Regions from separate parts of the Homo sapiens genome. Here region 1 is linked to region 2. Evidence: fine-mapped expression QTL. Tissue or cell type: whole blood. Region 2 holds a variant in brackets; the other region holds the start of a gene. All regions are shown on one strand. Distances are from middle to middle.

Region 1 (8,178 bases), 130 kb before region 2:
TCTACTAAAAATACAAAAATTAGCTGGGTGTGTGGGCGCATGCCTATATTCCCAGCTACTTGGAGACTGAGGCAGGAGAATTTCTTGAAACCTTTTTTTTTTTTTTTTTTTGAGGTGGAGTCTCTGTCGCCCAGGCTGGAGTGCAGTGGCGAGATCTCGGCTCATTGCAAGCTCCGCCTCCTGGTTGAACCCATTAAAAAAAAATAAAAATATATTAATATAACTCCCATATGCAGTCATTCAATGAATTTGTATTGGCCTCTAAACTGGGCATGGCTGGATGTAGAATCTATGGATGTGGCTAGATGGAATACACCTGGTTATGGAGGCACCTGCAGGTATTTTGGTGATCTTCTCCAAAGGATCTTTTGCTTTGCTGAGACGCCTGATCTTCCTGTCAATGTGAAGGTAGCTGCTGGAGGCTTGTGAACAGCAGTCAATGGTAGAGAAAAAATGTGGGTAAAGGCCAAGCGTGTGGCTCACATCTATAATCCCAGCACTTTGGGAGGCCGAGGCAGGAGGATCACTTGAGGTCAGGAGTTCAAGACCAGCCTGGCCAACATGGTGAAACCCTGCCTCTACTAAAAATACAAAAATTAGCTGGGTGTGGTGGCATATGCTCATAGTCTCAGCTACTTGGGAGGCTGAGGCAGGACAATTGCCTGAACCTGGGAAATGGAAGTTGCAGTGAGCTGAGATCATGCTACTACACTCTAGCCTGGGTGACAGAGTGAGACTCCATCTCAAAAAAAAAAAAAAAAAAAAAAAAAAAAAAGCAGGTACGTTCCTACAAACTCACCCTCATCAGTTGAAAGAGAAAAAGACTCAAAGCTTGTAACTGCAGTTTTGGACGCATGATCAGGCCATAGCAGGGAATCCCATCTTCCAGCAGATGGTTCTCCAAGATTGTGGTCCACCTGACAAATGAAATCACGTAGGCACTGCCGAGTCCTCAGGGGCCGGTGTGATGAGAATGGCTACAACTCAATCATTATGCAACTTATCTCAAAGCCTGTCATGGTTGCCACCCAGTCTGACCTCTGATATCCTGGAGCCAAGGTCCTCACCCATCATGTGAATTTGCATGTGAGGGAGGGTGAGGAGGAGACACTGAGGCAGGCAAGGCATTCTGCAAGCTTTTGCAGAGTTTTCATGGACACATTCTGATTCCCACTGTGTCCAGGTGGGAGTTCTGTACACATCACAGATGGAAAAAAGAAACTCTCTGTGGATTTGGCAGCACCCTGGATTGGATGTTTGAAGAAAGCTATTGCATCTGCCCCGTATCTTCTGTGAATCGGGTACCTTTATGCTTCTGGGAGGTCAAGAAGAACCCAGAACCCTCCAGTGACTTCCCTTTGGGTCTTGGCATTATGAGAAGATGGTTAACCTCCTTTATAGAACTCTCCTTCACATCCAATCCTTCAGAAAGCCTAATTGATCCCATCTTCTTAACCCAACCCCTCCCCTGGACATCGTTCCTAAGCCCCTTAAAGAAACAGATGGCGGCTGGGCACGGTGGCTCACGCCTGTAATCCCAGCACTTTTGGGAGGCCAAGGCATGTGAATCATGAGGTCAGGAGTTCGAGACCAGCCTGGCCAATATGGTGAAACCCTGTCTCTACTAAAAATACAAAAATCAGCTGGGCATGGTGGTAATCCCAGCTCCACTGGAGGCTGAGGTAGGAGAATTGCTTGAACCCCGGGAGGCAAAGGTTGCAGTGATCCGAGATCGCACCATTGCACTCTAGTCTGGGTGACAAAGCGAGACTCCGTCTCAAAAAAAAAAAAAAAGAAAAGAAAAGAAAAGATATGGATGGCATATCCTTGTACCTCCAGGGCCTGACACACAGTGCTGGCACCACAGCCCCAGTCCCCCGGGGTTGATGGCATGATTCACTCCCTGACCTGGAGACTGGGGAGGCTTGTCAGCTTATAGGTTTCCACAGCAGGCAATGTGGCCGAATTGCTTCCAGAGAAGTAGGGAGGTGAGTATGACCATTACTTGTGTCTAAAAATCCGACGTGACTAACTTACAAACACATAAGTTACCACAAATGATTTAGGGAGGAGGAAAGAAGTGCAGACAGGCAAGCTTTCAGATCGTTTCAGGAAACCAGGAAGCAGGGAGCACAGCGTTGCAGCCAGCAAGGGAAGACGGAAGCTGTGAGTCCTGGCTCTGAGGGCCTCCCATCCAGTTGGGCTGATGGATGAGACAGGTACAGTCTGTGCTGGGCCATCGTGAGGCTTGCAGAGGGTAGTGCCAGGGTCACACAAGGCGTCATGGCCTCAGAATTCTGAGACCTGGTTTTCCATCTGAACTCATCACCCTTAGTGGGAGACCTAGGGTGCGTTTCTCTTCAATCCTGGGTTTCACCTCTCTAAACAAGGGACAATAGTATCTACCTCAGAGGGTTGTGGCAATGACCAAATGTGTCACAGGTGAAAATGTCCAGTAGTTTCTGGCATTTATGACGTGTTCGGTCAATGTTAGTTCACTATTGTTATCCCATTTACTAAGCGAATGCATGTGACACACCATGCGTTTCTGAACCTCGTATGTGAGAGTGCCTGGCATAGAATTGATGTTCATTAAAGGTTTATTTTTTAAATTTTTAGATAAACTTATTTTGAAATAGTTTTAGACTTGAAGAGTTGCAGAAATACTAGCGAGTTTCCCTGTATCCTACATCCAGCTTCCCCTAATTTTTTTTCCCCCAAGATGGAGTCCTGCTCTGTTGCCCAGGCTGGAGTGCAGTGGCATGATCTCGGTTCACTGCAAACTCCGTCTCCTGGATTCAAGTGATTCTTGTGCCTCAGCCTCCTGAGTAGCTGGGATTACAGGCGCACACCACCATGCCCAACTAATTTCTGTATTTTTAGTAGAGACGGGGGTTTCACCATGCTGGCCAGGCTGGTCTTGAACTCCTAACCTCAGGTGGTCTGTCTGCCTCAGCCTCCCAAAGTGCTGGGATTACAGGTGTGAGCCACTGCACAGGGCCCAGCTTCCCCTAAAAATGTTAACGTCTTACCTAACCATAGTAAGAGGATCAGAACCAGGAAATTGCAGATCTTATGTGAATTTTGCCCGCTCTCCTGCTACTGTCCTTTCCTGTTCCATGTTCCCAACCAGCATCCCATGTTCCATTTAGTTGTTGTATCTATCCCCTTAGGGACGATTCCTAGATTGTGACAGTTTCTCAGTCTTTGTCTTTCAAGACCCAAAGTGTCCAAGGACACTTTTGATGGGTACTGGTTAATCACTTTGTAGAACAGGTCTCAATCTGGGTTTGTCTGGTGTTTTCTTGCGATTGGATTGAGATTACACACTTCTGCAGGAATACCACCACAATATGTTGCTTTTAGTTTTTTCCTCCTTTATTGTGGTAAAATACACTCAACATAACATTTACCATTTAAACCACTTTATTTTATTTTATTATTATTTTTTGAGATGGAGTTTCACTCTTGTTGCCCAGGCTGGAGTGTAATGGTGCGAACTCAGCTCACCACAACCTCCGCCTCCCGGGTTCAAGCAATTCTCCTGCCTCGGCCTCTCGAGTAGCTGGGATTACAGGCATGTGCCACCACGTCCGGCTAATTTTTGTATTTTTAGTAGAGATGGGGTTTCTCCGTGTTGGTCAGGCTGGTCTCGAACTCCCGACCTCAGGTGATCCGCCCACCTCGGCCTCCCAAAGTGCTGGGATTACAGGCGTGAGCCACCGCTCCCGGCCTAAACCACTTTAAAGTGTATGATTCAAGGGCAGTATGTAGATTCATCCTGTTGGATCATTTCTAGACTTTTTCATCATCCTAAAACGAAACCCCAAGCTGCTTATCTTCCTCCCCTAGCACCTGGCAACCTCCAATCTGTGTCGCCTCTACGGATTTGCCAATTCGAGACATTTCATCTGGATGGAATCATACGCTATGTGGCCTTTTTTGTTTGGCTTCTTTCACTAGCATAACGTTTCCCGGGTTCCTCCACACTGCAGCATGCATCGGTGCTCCATTCCTTTTTGTAGCCGAATAATATTCCATTGCATGGACAGATCACATTTTACTTTTATTTTCTAATTCAACAGTGAGACCTGGTGTGGGCCCCGGCGCTGGGCCTGGGAGGCGAGGGAGGGGATGGAAGAGAGCCCCGTGACTGGCAGGAGGCACTGTGGAGTGTGGGGAGAAGGGGTCGGGATCTGCATGCTAGAGAGAATAGGATTTTATTTACACGTGGCAATGTTTATGGAGGCCAATGCACAACTGCCATTATGGGACGCGGACTCCTTTGAAAGTCTCATTTGTGTAAAAGGAAAAGCAGTAGTTCATGAGGAGGGGGAGAAGGGCTCAAGGACAGCAAGGTAAACTACCCCTGGGGCGGGGGAACGTGGTCGTCGGTGGGCCCAGCTTTGGAGGCTAGGCCCGTGAAGGTCGCCCCGTGAGCAGGTCCAGGGCAGGCCGAGTGCCCCGGGGCCCGCATTCATTGCTTACAGAGCAAGGGGAGCCTCCCGGGAGGGAAATCCAACGGTTGGAAACTTCGATTTATCCCAAAGGCGTGCCGAGTGGGAAGGCAACATTTTGATTTCCCAAACGTTGCGGCCAGCGGCTTCTTCCACGGCAGGCGCCTTCAGGTCTCTCCGCAGGGTCGGGACCCCGGGCGGCGCGCGGCCTCTGGGACGCCGAGGGAGGGCGGGCCCACAGCGCCCGGAGCGCGGACAGCGGCCACAGCCCGCCGCCTAGAAGCGGCGCCGCCCGGGGCGGGGGGCGGAGCCGAGCGCGCGCCCCGCCCCGCCCCGCCCCGCCCCGCAGCCCCAGCCCAGCGCGCGCACCAAGGCGGGGCGGCGCGCGGCCCGTGCGCGTGTCCGGGGCCAGGAGGCGGTGGCGGCGAGCGCGGGCCGCGCGTGCGCGCTGCGGCTGGGCGAGGGGCGGCGCGGGCGCGCGTCTGTCAGTGACAGCGGGCGGGGCAGGGGCCGGAGATGGTGGCGGCGGCAGCTCTTCCGACATGAGGCAGCGGCCGCGGGGGACACGGCGGCGGGCGCGGCGGCGGCCGCATCTCTAGCTCGGGGAGGCGGCCCCCGGCGTGGGCGCGGGCGGGCGGGCGTCCCGGCCGGCGTCGCGGGAGCCCGGCTCTGCGGCAGCGTCTGCACCGCCGCCCGGCGAGGGGCCCGCGTCCGTGGTTCCACGCGCTCGGTCCCGGGACAGCTGCGGCCGCGGCGGGAGCGGCGGCGCACTCGGGGGGAAGCAGGCCCCACTAGACGGGCCGCGCCGACGGGCTCCGCGCACTCGCAGCCCGGGGCGCCCCCACCCCCAGCGCCCGCCGCCGCGGGCAGGGCCGGCCCGGAGCGCGGGGGGCGGCCGGGGAGCGCGAGCCGGGGGCGCCCGCCGAAGCTCGCTGCTCCGGGTCGGGGTCCGGGCCCGGGGCCGGCCGCGCGCCGCCTTTGACGCATCGGAGCGCGGCTCCTGCAGGATGGAGGGCTCCGCGCCGCCAGCGGAGTTGTTTGTGCGCAGGCGGCTCGCGGGGCTGGGAGCGCTCAAGGTCTGAACTTCCCTCCGGAGCCGCAGCTGGAGGAGGCGAGCGCGCGAGGAGGAGAAGCCGCGCGGCGCGGAGGCCACCCTCGGGGCGAGAGGCGCGGAAGGCGAGCGAGCAAAGCGGTCCCGGAGCCACGGCGGCCACGCGGCGGGGACCCCCGGGCGTTCTAGGTCCGTCCCGAGCGGTTCTCGTGCGCCTCGAAGGTGGGGGCGGTGGGGGCGGTGGGAGCACCGCTGAGCCGGGAACCACAGGAACAGATGGTGCCTGTCCAGGTCGCGTGCTGGAGCCGCCCCTTAGGACAGGAGCAGGTCCCGGGCCTCTAGGCGTGCATGCCTAGGTGGGAGCGCCGCTAACTCTCCCCGTTTTGCTGGCAGGTACTGGTGACCCCGGCCGGGGCAGGCCCCGGGACTCGACAACATGGCTTCCCCACCCCACCAGCAGCTGCTGCATCACCACAGCACCGAGGTGAGCTGCGACTCCAGCGGGGACAGCAACAGCGTGCGCGTCAAGATCAACCCCAAGCAGCTGTCCTCCAACAGCCACCCCAAGCACTGCAAATACAGCATCTCCTCTAGCTGCAGCAGCTCTGGGGACTCCGGGGGCGTCCCCCGGCGAGTGGGCGGCGGAGGCCGGCTGCGCAGGCAGAAGAAGCTGCCCCAGCTGTTCGAGAGGGCCTCCAGCCGCTGGTGGGACCCCAAGTTCGACTCGGTGAACCTGGAGGAGGCCTGCCTGGAGCGCTGCTTCCCGCAGACCCAGCGCCGGTTCCGGTATGCGCTCTTCTACATCGGCTTCGCCTGCCTTCTGTGGAGCATCTATTTTGCGGTCCACATGAGATCCAGACTGATCGTCATGGTCGCCCCCGCGCTGTGCTTCCTCCTGGTGTGTGTGGGCTTCTTTCTGTTTACCTTCACCAAGCTGTACGCCCGGCATTACGCGTGGACCTCGCTGGCTCTCACCCTGCTGGTGTTCGCCCTGACCCTGGCTGCGCAGTTCCAGGTCTTGACGCCTGTCTCAGGACGCGGCGACAGCTCCAACCTTACGGCCACAGCCCGGCCCACAGATACTTGCTTATCTCAAGTGGGGAGCTTCTCCATGTGCATCGAAGTGCTCTTTTTGCTCTATACCGTCATGCACTTACCTTTGTACCTGAGTTTGTGTCTGGGGGTGGCCTACTCTGTCCTTTTCGAGACCTTTGGCTACCATTTCCGGGATGAAGCCTGCTTCCCCTCGCCCGGAGCCGGGGCCCTGCACTGGGAGCTGCTGAGCAGGGGGCTGCTCCACGGCTGCATCCACGCCATCGGGGTCCACCTGTTCGTCATGTCCCAGGTGAGGTCCAGGAGCACCTTCCTCAAGGTGGGGCAATCCATTATGCACGGGAAGGACCTGGAAGTGGAAAAAGCCCTCAAAGAGAGGATGATTCATTCCGTGATGCCAAGAATCATAGCCGATGACTTAATGAAGCAGGGAGATGAGGAGAGTGAGAATTCTGTCAAGAGGCATGCCACCTCGAGCCCCAAGAACAGGAAGAAAAAGTCTTCCATCCAAAAAGCTCCTATAGCCTTCCGCCCTTTTAAGATGCAGCAGATCGAAGAAGTCAGTATTTTATTTGCAGATATCGTGGGCTTCACCAAGATGAGTGCCAACAAGTCTGCCCACGCCCTGGTGGGTCTCCTGAACGATCTGTTCGGTCGCTTCGACCGCCTGTGTGAGGAGACCAAGTGTGAGAAAATCAGCACCCTGGGAGACTGTTACTACTGCGTGGCGGGCTGTCCCGAGCCCCGGGCCGACCATGCCTACTGCTGCATCGAGATGGGCCTGGGCATGATCAAGGCCATCGAGCAGTTCTGCCAGGAGAAGAAGGAGATGGTGAACATGAGAGTCGGGGTGCACACGGGCACCGTCCTTTGCGGCATCCTGGGCATGAGGAGGTTTAAATTTGACGTGTGGTCCAACGATGTGAACCTGGCCAATCTCATGGAGCAGCTGGGAGTGGCCGGCAAAGTTCACATTTCTGAGGCCACCGCAAAATACTTAGATGACCGGTACGAAATGGAAGATGGGAAAGTTATTGAACGGCTGGGCCAGAGCGTGGTTGCTGACCAGTTGAAAGGTATGTGCACTGCTTTACCTCGGCATCCCCCCTCCCTGATCCTGATTGTATTAAATTAAAAAAAAAAGCTTCCAGCCTCAGTGTCTGCAGACAGCTCAGGTATCTCAGAATGCCTTACCATGGGGGGATCTCAGGGTCAGTGTGACTTTTCTTTCAGCGGGTCAAATATCACAGATCTGTTCACACTGCAGAAAGGGACGCTGTGCAGAGATGACCTAGACGCGACCTTTAGAAGGAAGGAGAACTTTGAACGTGCATAACCACTGGTTGGCTGAAATGTGGGGGCACGTCCGGTGAATGTAAGGGTATGGAGCCCTTCAGCATTCAGCACTGTTTAGCACTTAAGGAAATTGCCTTTGCATTCATTTGGTCACCCTGAAGTCCCATCCAAATGTTTCTCTCTGCCCTTTTTGCGAAAACGTGGAGAATAAAATCTTTCTCCTCTCTAGGCCTCACTTTGCTTATCCTCAAAATAGGGATAGGAAGTCGGCGCAGTCCTGCAGGTCTCTGGAGAATTAGACGGAGTTACTTACCTCTGAGT
Region 2 (8,178 bases):
GGACCACAGGCACGTGCCATCAAGGTCAGCTAATTGGTTTTATTTTTAGTAGAGACAAGGTCTCCCTATGTTGCCCAGGCTGGTCTTGAACTCCTGGCCCTAAGCAGTCCTCCTGCTTCGGCCTCCCAAAGTTCTGGGATTACAGGTGTGAGCCAGCACACCAGCAAAATGTTTAGAAGTTTAACTCTGCCAGTCAATACCAAGAGGTGCTTTCAAATAGACTCACTGTATGTTATTGATAACTAGAACATTTTACCTCTGTTGATAATGTCAGTTTTTAAAGAGCTGTAAGCAAATGTTATCTAGATGCCATTATTTGCTCAGATATGTTAATTAATGATTTCGCTAGCTGTTTTGGCATGTATATTTTCATTTTTTGAATGCATACAAATGTTCAAATTTAGCTTGTATGTTACATCAGATTCCCAAACTATACAACCCTGTAGAATCTTTGTTTCTTTTATTTAATATAGTACAGGTCTGCAGTCTAACTTTAAATACAACCTGGGTCATATCTTTGCCCTTAGGTAGTGACACTTACTTTAAATTTCCAAAATAATATCTGGCCTCCCATAATTTATTTCAATGTTTTACACTTCTTGCTGCAAGGAAATTGCTTTTGAGTCCAAAAAAAAAAAAAAATATATTTCTTGCCACGGTTTGTCTTCTTCATTGGAAGCTGTTAGTTGCTTTCTTAGATGGTTCCTAGGTTACCTGGTCACATTAATAATAATAATAAGTTTATTACGGGTATACTGTATGCCAGGAACTGTGCTAGGCTATATATATACTTATTTCATTTAATTATTATTTTTTTAAGACAGGGTCTTTCTCTTTTGCCCCAGGCTGGAGTGCAGTGGCACCATCAAAGCTCACTGCGGCCTTGACCTCCCAGACTCAAGCAGCCCTCCCACCTCAGCCCCACAAGTAGCTGGGACTACAGGCACATGCCACCAGGCCAGGCTAATTTTTATGCTTTTTGTTGAGGCAGGGTTTTGCCATGTTGCCCAGGCTGGCCTCAAATTCCTGGACTCAAGCCATCCTCCCACCCCAGCTTCCCAAAGTGCTGGGATTACAGCCGCCACACCCAGCCAATTTCATTTAATTCTTAGCAACATATCTTCACTCTTTGTTTATAGATGAGGGAACTGAGGTAAAGTGATTTGAACAGAGTCTCCAAACTAGTAAGTACTTGACTAGGGTTTGAATCCTAGTTTATGAGAAATAAAGGCTTTGCTCTTTTTAGGGTACCTGTATTAAATCTTGCCTTCTCTTTTCTAGGTCCATTAATTCCTATAAACTTTTAAGTACGCCTAGATCTGGAAATCGTGTACCTTTGATTATTCAGCCCATCTTATGAGACTAGCTCACCATCACACGGAGCTTAAGAACCTTGGATTTGTGTCCTCGCATAGTTGGTGGCCAGTTTCTTTACTTAATAACAGCTTTGTTGAGATATAATTCACATACTATAAAATCGATCTTTTTGGCCAGGCACAGTGGCTCATGCTTGTAATCCCAGCACTTTGGGAGGCCAAGACGGGTGGATCACCTGAGGTCAGGAGTTCAAGACCAGCCTGGCCAACATGGCGAAACCCCGTTTCTACTAAAAACACAAAACAAGTAGCCGGGCGTGGTGGCAGGCACCTGTAATCGCAGCTACTCAGGAGGCTGAGGCAGGAGAATCGCTTGAACCCAGGAGGTGGACGTTGCAGTGAGCCAAGATCGTGACACTGTACTCCAGCCTGGGTGACAAGAGTGAAACTCCATCTCAAAAAATATTTAAAAATCGATCTTTTTAAAGTGTACAGTTCAGTGGTTTTTAGTATATTTAGCAAGGTTGTGCAACCATCACCGTGATCAATTTCAGAACATTTTTATCATCCCAAAGAGAAACCCTGTTGAAATACCACAAACCAGGTGGCTTTTAAACAACAGAAATGTATTTCTCAGGGTTCTGGAGGCTGGGAAGTCCGAGATCAAGGTCCCGGAAGATTCAGTGTCCAGTGAGGACCCGTTCCTGCTTCACAGATGGTGCCTTCTCCCAGGGCGAAGGGACGAGGGATTCCTCTGGGGCCTCTTTTATGAGGGCACTAATCCTATTTTGAAGGCTTGTCCCCCATGACCTAATTACCTCCCAAGGCTTTGCCCCCCAATGCCATCCCCTTGGGAATTAGGATTTCAGCGTCTGACTTTTGAGGGGGCACAAACATTCGAATCGTAGCAAACCCCACGCCCCTTAGCAGCCACTCCCCCTTCCTGCCCCCGGTCCCGCCTGGCAGCCAGGAATCTGCCTTCTCCCTCCAAGGATTCACCTTTTCTGAATATTTCACATAGACGGGATCACGTAATATCTGTGCTGTGTCTGGCTTCCCTCCCCGAGCATAATGTTTTCGAGGTTCACCATGCTGTGGCAGGCGTCAGTGCTTCCGTCTTTTTCGTGGCTGAGTAATATCCCATTGTTCGAATAGACCACAGTTTGTTGATCCATTGTTCAGTCAGTGAACATTCCCGGTTCCATTTTTGGGTCCTGTTGCGTTCGTGCCCGGGTTTCTGTGTGTTTCCACTGTCACTTTGCCCGTTGGCTTTCAGCTCATCCCCGAGCGGTTCTGTGTGCCTTCCCCTTGCTCACCACCATGCTGCGTGACGGCAGATGGCAACAGCGGACCTGCCTGAATTCAGGGTGGCAGTCGCGGTTTCTGGGTGTGTCCCCACAGTCTGTGTTTTTCTTCTAGACCTGCCCTTCGTGCGGAATCACATTTGCTCCCAAATCTGAAGCCGGCGCCGAGGGAGGAGCACCTCAAAACGGCTGCCAAGACGAGCATAAAAACAGCACCAAGGTAACAAGCTCATGGCTGTTGTTCCTGTCAGTTCCTCTCCTGGCGCATCCACCCAAGGTGACATTCCTGTCTTGTCGACTTCTTAGTTCTGAGAGTAACTCCTCTTGGGTAACAGCACTCCGCACCCGCGGGTCCTCCGGGTGTTGAAGAGACCGGCAGGGAGCTCGAGGGAGGGTCAGCAGCAACCCACGTGGAAACCAGCGCTCAGGGGCTGAGCTGGGCGGGATTCCTTTAAAGGCCAATAAGGGTTTAAAATGCGTGGATTCGAGTGCCGGGAGGGGATTTGTGGTACTGGAAGCTGGACTCAGTTTATGAGAGAATATAGACGGGCAGAGACAAGAGGGGGTCTTCACGGCGAGAAAGGCTGGGTGAAGAGAGAGGTTGGGAGTTAGGGCCGGTGGCAGGAAGGCT[T/G]TCAGGAAAACCAGACTTGGACACCAGGGCCAGGACTCAGCCCACCCGCGAGAGCCTGTCGGCGGGGGCTCATGCAGGCGACTCACCTGGGGCGCGGGCTCTCGTCCTCCATCTGCTCTCCATCTGCCAAAGGATTGCAGGTGCAGGTCATCCCATGCCTTCCCACAGCCACGGGGGACACCCACGACACGAGCCCGTTTCCATCCACCTTGCCTGTGCCCTGACAGCCCTGGACCCCTCGTCATACTTCTCCTGGACCCCCGACCCATGCACCCTGCTCCCAGAACCGTGGTTCTGGCCTAAGCAGACTCTGGGGGCCTCGGCTCCTCACTTTCCTCCCTTCCCCTCCACCTCCGCACCGACTCTTCCCATGTCTCAATGTCCTGGCAGCCTGAACACCCAGCGTTACCACTGGGCACTGTTGGGTAACAGGAAGGAGCAGACGGGCAGTCAGGGCTGGGATTGGAGCAGGTCTGTAGGCGCAGGGGGGTGGGGGTTCCTCGCAGGTCAGAAAGTCCCACGCCCAGTGCAGCAGCGCCCCGCAGCGGAGGTCGGGGTGGGACAGGCGTGTGTGCCCAGTGCCCGGTGCCACTTCACTTCCCGTGTCTGCGTCCTCTTTGTCTCGAGGCAGGCTTCTGGAGGACCTAATCCCAAAACTCAGAACGGGCTCCTCAGCCCTCCCCAAGAGGAGAAGCTCACCAACAGTCAGACTTCTCTGTGTGAGATCTTGCAGGAGAAGGGAAGGTGGGCAGGGGTGAGCCTGGACCAGTCGGCTCTCCTTCCGCTGAGGTTCAAGAACATCCGGGAGAAAACGGACGCCCACTTTGTGGACGTTATCAAAGAAGACAGGTACGACTGGGGCTGTCTGGGAAAAAGCAAAGGTTGCAGGCAGAAGCCTCTCTGCCTTTTTCTTTTCTTTTCTTTAAGACTGAGTCTCGCTCTGTCATCCAGGCTGCAGTGCAGTGGCGCGATCTTGGCTCACTGCAGCCTCTATCTCCCAGGTTCAAACGATGCTCCTGCCTCAGCCTCCCAAGTAGCTGGGGTTACTGGCACCCACCACCATGCCTGGCTAGGTTTTGTATTTTTAGTAGAGATGGAGTTTCATCATGTTGGCCAGGCTGGTCTCCATACTCCTGACCTCGGGTGATCCACCTACCCCACCCTCCCAGAGTGCTGGGATTATAGGCGTGAGCCACCACGCCTGGCTTTTTTTTTTTTTTTTTTTTTTTTTATAAGGACTAGGTCTTGCTGTGTTGCCCAGGCTGGAGTGCAGTGGCTCAATCTCGGCTCACTGCAACCTCCACCTCCCAGGTTCAAGTAATTCTCCTGCCTAGGTCTCTCAAGTAGCTGGGACTACAGGCATACACAACCATGCCCAGCTAATTTTTGTGTTTTTAGTAGAGATGGGTTTTTAACATGTTGGCCAGGCGGGTCTCGAACTCTTGGCCTCAGGTGATCTGCCCGCCTCGGCCTCCTAAAGTGCTGGGATTACAGGTGTGAGCCTGTGCCTGGCCTAATGGTAACATTTTTGAAAAATACAGGTCCAGTCCTTTTATCAAATATTCCTGAAGTTGGATTGGTTAGATTCAGGCTCTCCCTCTGGCCAGGCAGAGACTGCAGAAGGGATGCCGTGTCCTCCTCAGGGTGTCCTCTCCAGGGACACGCAGTGCCCGTCTGTTCCTCATTAGTGATACTAATTTTGATTAATTAGGCAAGGTGGTGCCGGGTTGTCTCATCTAGGGTTATTATATTCCTCTTATGACTAATAAGCAATCTGTGAGAAAATACTTGAAGATCTTGTACATATTTCATTCCCCATCAGAATTCCCTAGATTTAACATTCATTGATGATTCTTGCCTCTGTCTTCACTATAATGCCTCAAAGGGTGATTTTCAGCCAGGCGCTGTGGCTCACGCCTATAATCCCAACACTTTGGGAGGCCGAGGCAGGTAGATCACCTGAAGTCAGGGGTTCAAGACCAGCCTGGCCAACAAGGTGAAACCCCGTCTCTACTAAAAGTACAAAAATTAGCTGGGCGTGGTGGCGGGTGCCTGTCATCCCAGCTACTCAGGAGGCTGAGGTAGGAGAATCGCTTGAACCCAGGAGGCAGAGGCTGCAATGAGCTGAGATCGCAGCACTGCAACTCCAGCCTGGGCAACAGAGCGAGTCTCCATCTCAAAAAACAAATAAGAAATAAATGGAGCAGCACAGCTAATAGCAGTGTCGCTTCTGCCACTTGACTGCTAAAATGTGGCCTTGTGCACATCCTCTCTGCAGCTGCGTGGTTGCTCTTCCCTCAGTCCACACTCCCTGAGTCAGGGGAGGAGAGAGGGTCAGTGTCCTGGGACAGAATTATTTCTCTTCTGAGTCTGAGAATGTTGGAAGTTACTGGATACCTGTCACAGAAAGGAGAGTGTCCGCCGTGCTGCAAGGACAGGAAGGAACACACGTGATGAGCCGTACTTTGTGTGGGGGGCACATGAGGCACTTGACATATTTCACCTGATTTACTCTTTTTTTTTTTTTTTGAGACATAGTCTTGCTGTGTCACCCAGGCTGTAATGCAGTGGCGCCATCTTGGCTCATTGCAACCTCCATCTCCCAGGTTCAAGTGATTCTCCTGCCTTAGCCACCCGAGTAGCTGGGATTACAGGCACCTGCCACCAGGCCTGGCTAATTTTTGTATTTTTTGTAGAAACGGGGGTTCACCATGTTGGCCAGGCTGGTCCCGAGCTCCTGACCTCAGGTGATCCGCTTGCCTCGGCCTCCCAAAGGTCTGGGGATTACAAGGATGAGCCACCGCGCCCAGCCTCGTCTAATTTACTTCTGATAGTCACTGTATGAGGGAGAGAGGCTAACACAGCTATATTTGCTTTCTGAAATCATGTTAACGTTCCCTTAGTTTCTAGTAATTTTCTGCAGTATAGAAAGGATATTACTATTTGCTGGCAATTCATAAATGAATGAAAGAGTCATGGAAAGCGGGGTTGATTTCCCTGCTATTAAAATCACTGAGCTTTATCATTCTGCAGGTTTCACATGCAATCTGCATATGTGACAATAGCACCAAAATTACGCTAACTATAAACACAATTTTGTGATAACAACCTGTTAGCTTTTACGGTGGCAATTACTGTCAGTGCTCTGAATGACAGGACCGCCGGTTCTGAATTATGTTTTCGTTTGAAGCCTCCAAATCCATGTAAGTACTCTCAGCACAGTGATCTGCGTGTTCTTCACAAAAGATTGTTTCAAAGAACAGAAAAGCTGCCTTCATCTTCTCCTAATCCTAGACATTAGGAATGTGTTTTCAAAAACAAGCCTCAGCAGCTCACGCTGTCATCCCAGCACTTTGGGAGGCCGAGATGGGTGGATCTCTTGAGCCCAGGAGTTCGAGACCAGCCTGACCAACATGGTGAAACCCCGCGTCTGCTAAAAAATACAAAAATTAGCTGGGTGCGGTGGCAGGCGCCTGTAATCCCAGCTACTCAGGAGGCTGAGGCAGGAGAATTGCTTGAACCTGGGAGGCGGAGATTGCAGTGAGCCAAGATCGCTGCGCCATTGCACTCCAGCCTGGGCGACAGAGTGAGACCTTGCCTCAAAAAAAAAAAACCCCAAAAAACCAAGGTTCTGATGATGTGTGCTATAATCATGGTGGATGGTCATTCTTTAACGAAGGTGAAACACAAAATATGATTATGCTTTGAGGTGCGAAGGACTTTCCACAGATCTGTTTTAACAAGGGGCAGCTGAGTGGCGTCTGTTCCACAGGCGCTTTTAGACGCAGCTGTTGTAATATACCTAATGAGCAGCGTTTTGGTAGCTAATTATGATCTGAAAACATTGGCACAGTTATGGTGCTGGGTATTGATCGACTGCATTTGTTGTGTCTTCTAGCCTGATGAAAGATTACTTTTTTAAGCCGCCCATTAATCAGTTCAGCCTGAACTTCCTGGATCAGGAGCTGGAGCGATCCTACAGGACCAGCTATCAGGAAGAGGTGCGTTCATTTCTCCTTGCGCTTTTACTAAAGAATGTGTTTGTTGTTCTCACATGGTCATTCACTGTTAGTTTTGTGCTTTACCAAGGGATGGGAACACGAAGGCGAACATTGATTTCCCACACTCTGTAAACCCTAAGTGGCAACTGTACATGAAATGTCTCTTTGCAAAGGAGGAAAAAAACCCTTTCTTTAGTCCTTTGTCTTAAAGCGCAGCCTCGCCATTACTAGCCCCTTTCCTCTGCCGTGGCATCTCCAGGCTATCCCCAGCCTTGGAAGGGGCCCCCCCACCACAACCTGTCCTGAAAGGAAACCCCCAACCTGCCCTGGAAGGAAACCCCCCCACCTGCCTTGGAAGGGGCCCCCACACCTGCCCTGGTAAAGGAACCCCCCCCACCTGCCATGGAAGGGGTCCCCCACCTGCCCTGGAAAGGAACCCCTCCCCACCTGCCCTGGAAAGGAACCCCGACACCTGCCCTGGAAGGGAACCCCCCACACCTGCCCTGGAAGGGAATCCCCCACACCTGCCCTGGAAGGGAACCCCCCACCTGCCCTGGAAGGGAACTCCCCACCGACCTGCCCTGGAAGAGCCCCCGTCCCACCTGTCCTGGAGTCTTGGGTGAGACTCTTCTCTGTTGCCCTCCCTGCTTTCTTCCCCTGAGAAGGGCCCAGGAGGCCTTCACCTCTCTCTCTAACTCCGGCTCCATGTTCCCTCTCCCGCCCCCACCGCCTTAACCCCTTGTACTTGACTTCTCAGCCCATCACCCAATCCCACTTCCTCCAAGAAGCTCTCCCCGACTGCAGACTGGATTGTACTTCCCTTCATACACTTCCTTCTCCGTGTGTGCCCCATTTTGGAATCTTTCCGTGTGTGGTTCTGGATTCGTGTTCCTCCCTCCCTAGATGCTCAGCTCTGTGAGGTAGGA

Evidence for each region. PIP is the estimated chance that this variant, and not a neighbour inherited with it, causes the effect.
Region 1: ADCY9 starts here. The variant in region 2 is fine-mapped to the expression of ADCY9 in whole blood (TOPMed, PIP 0.95).

What each region holds. Positions count from the first base shown.
Region 1 is chr16:4,113,209-4,121,386 of GRCh38, reverse strand. ADCY9 (adenylate cyclase 9) reads left to right here and starts at 4,945. Exons shown (of 11, transcript NM_001116.4): 1 at 4,945-5,697; 2 at 5,902-7,637. The coding sequence starts at 5,945. RefSeq lists silencers at 4,738-4,807, 7,801-8,011.
Region 2 is chr16:3,988,068-3,996,245 of GRCh38, reverse strand. ADCY9 (adenylate cyclase 9) reads left to right here. Exons shown (of 11, transcript NM_001116.4): 4 at 2,736-2,840; 5 at 3,883-4,100; 6 at 7,150-7,252. It overlaps LOC124903633 (a long non-coding RNA gene), which reads right to left and starts at 4,116. Exons shown (of 2, transcript XR_007064956.1): 1 at 3,338-4,116; 2 at 1,922-3,204. The variant T/G (reference allele first, on the strand shown) is at 3,252.